Linked DNA regions of Homo sapiens: region 1 is linked to region 2. The links come from fine-mapping of genetic effects on gene expression. A gene starts in region 2. The other region holds a variant in brackets. All regions are shown on one strand. Distances are between the middles of the regions.

Region 1 (2,925 bases), 82 kb before region 2:
CTGATGGTGGTTTCTTTTGCTGTGCAGAATCTTCTTAGTTTAATTAGATCCCATTTGTCAATTTTGGCTTTTGTTGCCATTGCTTTTGGTGTTTTAGACTTGAAGTCCTTGCCCATGCCTGTGTCCTGAATGGTATTGCCTAGGTTTTCTTCTAGGGTTTTTATGGTTTTAGGACTAACATGTAAGTCTTTAAACTATCTTGAATTAATTTTTGTATAAGGTGTAAGGAAGGGATCCAGTTTCAGCTTTCTACATGTGGCTAGCCAGTTTTCCCAGCACCATTTATTAAATAGGGAATCCTTTCCCCATTGCTTGTTTTTGTCAGGTTTGTCAAAGATCAGATAGTTGTAGATATGCGGCATTACTTCTGAGGGCTCTGTTCTGTTCCATTGGTCTATATTTCTGTTTTGGTACCAGTACCATGCTGTTTTGGTTACTGTAGCCTGGTGGTATAGTTTGAAGTCGGGTAGCGTGATGCCTCTAGCTTTGTTCTTTTGGCTTAGGATTGACTTGGCAATGTGGGCTCTTTTTTGGTTCCATATGAACTTTAAAGTAGTTTTTTCCAATTCTGTGAAGAAAGTCATTGGTAGCTTGATGGGGATGGCATTGAATCTATAAATTACCTTGGCCAGTATGGCCATTTTCATGATATTGATTCTTCCTACCCATGAGCATGGAATGTTCTTCCATTTGTTTGTATCCTCTTTTATTTCATTGAGCAGTGGTTTGTAGTTCTCCTTCAAGAGGTCCTTCACATCCTTTGTAAGTTGGATTCCTAGGTATTTTATTCTCTTTGAAGCAATTGTAAATGGGAGTTCACTCATGATTTGGCTCTCTGTTTGTCTGTTATTGGTGTATAAGAATGCTTGTGATTTTTGCACATTGATTTTGTATGCTGAGACTTTGCTGAAGTTGCTTATCAGCTTAAGGACATTTTGGGCTGAGACGATGGGGTTTTCTAGATATACAATCATGTCATCTGCAAACAGGGACAATTTGACTTCCTCTTTTCCTAATCGAATGCCCTTTATTCCCTTCTGCTGCCTGATTGCCCTGGCCAGAACTTCCAACACTATGTTGAATAGGAGTGGTGAGAGAGGGCATTCCTGTCTTGTGCCAGTTTTCAAAGGGAATGCTTCCAGTTTTTGTCCATTCAGTATGATATTGGCTGTGGGTTTGTCATAGATAGCTCTTATTATTTTGAGATATGTCCTATCAGTACCTAATTTATGGAGAGTTTTTAGCATGAAGGGTTGTTGAATTTTGTCAAAGGCCTTTTCTGCATCTATTGAGACAATCATGTGGTTTTTGTCTTTGGTTCTGTTTATATGCTGGATTACGTTTATTGATTTTCGTATGTTGAACCAGCCTTGCATCCCAGGGATGAAGCCCACTTGATCATGGTGGATAAGCTTTTTGATGTGTTGCTGGATTCGGTTTGCCAGTATTTTATTGAGGATTTTTGCATCAATGTTCATCAAGGATATTGGTCTAAAATTCTCTTTTTTTGTTGTGTCTCTTCCAGGCTTTGGTCTCAGGATGATGCTGGCCTGATAAAATGAGTTAGGGAGGATTCCCTCTTTTTCTATTGA[T/C]TGGAAGAGTTTCAGAAGGAATGGTACCATCTCCTCCTTGTACCTCTGGTAGAATTCGGCTGTGAATCCATCTGGTCCTGGACTTTTTTTGGTTGGTAAGCTATTAATTATCGCCTCAATTTCAGAGCCTGTTATTGGTCTATTCAGAGATTCAACTTCTTCCTGGTTTAGTCTTGGGAGAGTGTATGTGTCGAGGAATTTATCCACTTCTTCTAGATTTTCTAGTTTATTTGCGTAGAGGTGTTTATAGTATTCTCTGATGGTAGTTTGTATTTCTGTGGGATTGGTGGTGATATCCCCTTTGTCATTTTTGTATTGCATCTATTTGATTCTTCTCTCTTTTCTTCTTTATTAGTCTTGCTAGGGCTCTATCAATTTTGTTGATCTTTTCAAAAAAACCAGCTCCTGGATTCATTAATTTTTTGAAGGGTTTTTTGTGTCTCTATTTCCTTCAGTTCTGCTCTAATCTTAGTTATTTCTTGCCTTCTGCTAGCTTTTGAATGTGTTTGCCCTTGCTTCTCTAGTTCTTTTAATTGCCATGTTAGGGTGTCAATTTTAGATCTTTCCTGCTTTCTCTTATGGGCATTTAGTGCTATAAATTTCCCTCTACACACTACTTTGAATGTGTCCCAGAGATTTTGGTATGTTGTGTCTTTGTTCTCATTGGTTTCAAAGAACATCTTTATTTCTGCCTTCATTTTGTTATGTACCCAGTAGTCCTTCAGGAGCAGGTTGTTCAGTTTCCATGTAGTTGAGCGGTTTTGAGTGAGTTTCTTCACCCTGAGTTCTAGTTTGATTGCACTGTGGTCCGAGAGACAGTTTGTTATAATTTCTGTTCTTTTACATTTGCTGAGGAGTGCTTTACTTCCAACTATGTGGTCAGTTTTGGAATAGGTGTGGTGTGGTGTTGAAAAGAATGTATATTCTGTTGATTTGGGGTGGAGAGTTTTGTAGATGTCTATTAGGTCCGCTTGGTGCAGAGCTGAGTTCAATTCCTGGATATCCTTGTTAACTTTCTGTCTCGTTGATCTGTCTAATGTTGACAGTGGGGTGTTAAAGTCTCCCATTATTATTGTGTGGGAGTCTAAGTCTCTTTGTAGGTCACTAAGGACTTGCTTTATGAATCTGGGTGCTCCTGTATTGGGTGCATATATATTTAGGATAGTTAGTTCTTCTTGTTGAATTGATCCCTTTACCATTATGTAATGGCCTTCTTTGTCTCTTTTGATCTTTGTTGGTTTAAAGACTGTTTTACCCGAGACTAGGATTGCAACCCCTGCCTTTTTTTGTTTTCCATTTGCTTGGTAGATCTTCCTCCATCCCTTTATTTTGA
Region 2 (2,925 bases):
TTGAACCCAGGAGGTCAAGGCTGCAGTGAACCATGATCATGCCACTGCACTACAGCCTGGGCAACAGAGAAAGACCCTGTATCAAAAAAAAAAAAAAAAAAAAAAGATAGCAGCATGTCTTCCTGCTCCATTCCCTTTCCCATCCATTCGGTCACCCTAACTAACCCAGCATCCAGATGTCTGCCTCCCAGGTCCAGCTCTGTTAGCCTGGGGCGGGGATTAGCACACTTATTCTGTAAACAGCCAGATAGTAAATTTTAGGTTTTGCAGACCAAGAGGCTGATAGAATATGTTGTACAAGTACTTATATAACAAGACAGAAAATACTTTTCCACAAATTTGTCATTAGGGAAATTTCAAACATAATGATTGAGTACAATTTGTTTGTAATACGGGTTTACAAATGAGACAAATAGAATTCTTTGGGGGTGGTGCTCCCTATCATCAAATCGATTATCAGTGTTCATCTTCAATCTCTAGCTGGCAGGTTGTGCAAAAACAGGTCGTGGGCCATATCGGGCCCCCAGGCCACTGTTTGCTGACTCCTGACCTAAGAACCACCGTCGTGGGGCACGTCCAGTCCTGCTCTGAATTCCAGCCTCCCTTCTGAGCACCTAAATGGCTTCTTCCCCCGGTGTCACAACGATGATTTGCCCAACAGTGAAGTTTCTATACATTCTTAATTAGATAATTTCCTTCCTATGCAGCTCTCAAGTATTTCCTTCCCTTTTGAGGAGAATTTCATTTTCCACAACATATAAGCATAAAAGGTAACAAACTCAAATCATTTTCATTCATCAGTCATTCAACAAACATTTGCACCCGGGACCTTGGAAAATAGAACCGGAGGCAAAGTGGAGATGGTGAGAGGGGATCCAGGAGGAAGCACTCAGGAAAGGGGTCTCACACCTGCTGCGCACCCTGAGCCATGTCACTTCTCCTCCCTGGGCCTCCGTCTCCTCATGTGTGAAGCAAGGGGACCGGCAAGCAGCCTTGCACAGTCCATGAATGTGGTCATTCATCCAGGCTTCCCTGGCCAGCCTGTCTGGGTCTAGCTGTTCTCCCTGCTTCTTCTTGAACCCTTTCTCCTTCCCCAAATCCCCTTTGCCTCTCCCCAGACTGACTCCTACATATTCTGGGCCCTCTATTTATGACAGACCCAAAAGTTACCCTCCTCCCCACCCAGAGTCCCCCACCCCACCCCCATGCACCTGTTAACAGAAGGACTCTGAGAGCCATGGCTGGAAGGAGCCAGAACCTGGAAGGAGGTGAACCAGGGGTTGCAGGCACCACTGAGGAACCACAAGGAAGCCACCAAAGCAAAGAAGGGCAGAAAAGGAGAAGTAGGAGGCAGAAGTCTATCAGAGATTCAAAGGAAGAGGGCGGAGGCTCAGTGAGCACATAGCCCTGCCTGGTCTTCCGCCCAGGACTGCCCACAGCCTGCCCACCCTTCCTCCCCAGCTTCCTGACCCAAACTTTCAAAGTCAATACCACTATCCAAAAGGTGCCATTTGTCACCCACTTGTTTCTTGGGTTGGCCCAAGCATATGAACAAGCTGAACAGACTTAGCCTGCCTCCTGGAATTCGTGTTCTAAACATTAATACGGGCCAGGCGCAGTGGCTCACGCCTGTAATGCCAGCACTTTGGGAGGCCAAGGCAGGAGGATTGCTTGAGCCTGGGAGTTTGAAACCAGCCTGGGCAACATAGAGAGACCCTGTCTCTACAAAAAAATATTTTTAATTAGCTGGGCATGGTGGTGCGCGCCTGTAGCCCCTGCTACTGGACAGGCTGAGGTGTGAGAATTACTTGAGCCCGAGGTCCAGGCTGCAGTGAGCTAGGATCACACCACTGCACTCCAGCCTGGGCAACATAGGGAGACCCCGACTCTACAAAAAAATACATTTAAAAAATTAGCCAGGCATGGTGGCACATGCCTGTAGTCCTAGCTACTCCAGAGGCTGAGGCAGGAGGATTGTTTGAGCTCAGGAGTCTGAGACTGCAATGAGCCTCAATAATGCCACTGCACTCCAGCCCAGGTGACAGAGTGAGACTCTGTCTCAAAAAAAAAATTAAATAAATAAATAAGCAAACATTAATACAGATCAAACAAGTGTAGGAGGTAAAACTCTGTGTCTTCCTGAAAACACACTTTGCAAAATGTCCCTCCTTCAGCCCATGGAAATGGAAGCGCCCTTCAGCCAGAGCTGTCCTCATTTGTAGCCATCAACAAAGACAACTCAAGTACAGGCATACCTGGTGCTTTTTAAATATTATTTTGTGCTTTTTTTAGAGACAGAGTCTAGCTCTGTTGCCCAGGCTGGAGTGCAGTGGTGTAATCACAGCTCACTGCAGCTTCAATCAACCTCCTGGGCTCAAGCGATCCTCCTACCTCAGCCTTCCGAGTAGCTGGTACTACAGGCACATGCTGCCATGGCCAGCTAATTTTTTTTAAATTTTTTGTAGAGACAAGATCTTGCTATGTTGTTCAGGCTATTCTCAACCTCCTGGACTCAAGTGATCCTCCTTCCTCAGCCTCCCAAACTGCTGAGATTACAGGTGTGAGCCACTGCATCCAGCCTATTTTTGTGTGTGTGTGTGTGTGTGTGTGTAAAGGCCTCAAGCTCTTCACCCAAGAATTTTCACTTCTAGTAATTTATCCTAAGAATAGTTAAGAAGTGTAGTCAAAAATATATGTACAAACTTGGCTGGGTGCGGTGGCTCATGCCTGTAATCCTAGCATTTTGGGAGGCTGAGGCGGGGTGGCTCACTTGAGGTCAGCAATTGAAACCAGCCTGCCCAACATGGTGAAACCTCATCTTTACTAAAAAGACAAAAAAATTAGCCAGGCGTGGTGGCAGGCACCTGTAATCCCACCTGGGAGGCTGAGGCAGCAGAATCACTTGAACCCTGGAGGCGGAGGTTG

The links. PIP is the estimated chance that this variant, and not a neighbour inherited with it, causes the effect.
Region 1: its variant is the best candidate, but not a certain one, in a credible set for the expression of ITGAM in whole blood (INTERVAL, PIP 0.55).

What each region holds. Positions count from the first base shown.
Region 1 is chr16:31,340,153-31,343,077 of GRCh38, reverse strand. No RefSeq gene overlaps it. Among named protein-coding and RNA genes, the nearest start is that of ITGAX, 14 kb to the left of the region's middle. The variant T/C (reference allele first, on the strand shown) is at 1,593.
Region 2 is chr16:31,258,379-31,261,303 of GRCh38, reverse strand. It overlaps ITGAM (integrin subunit alpha M), which reads right to left and starts at 1,329. Exons shown (of 30, transcript NM_000632.4): 1 at 1,212-1,329. The coding sequence starts at 1,239. RefSeq lists an enhancer at 1,473-1,572.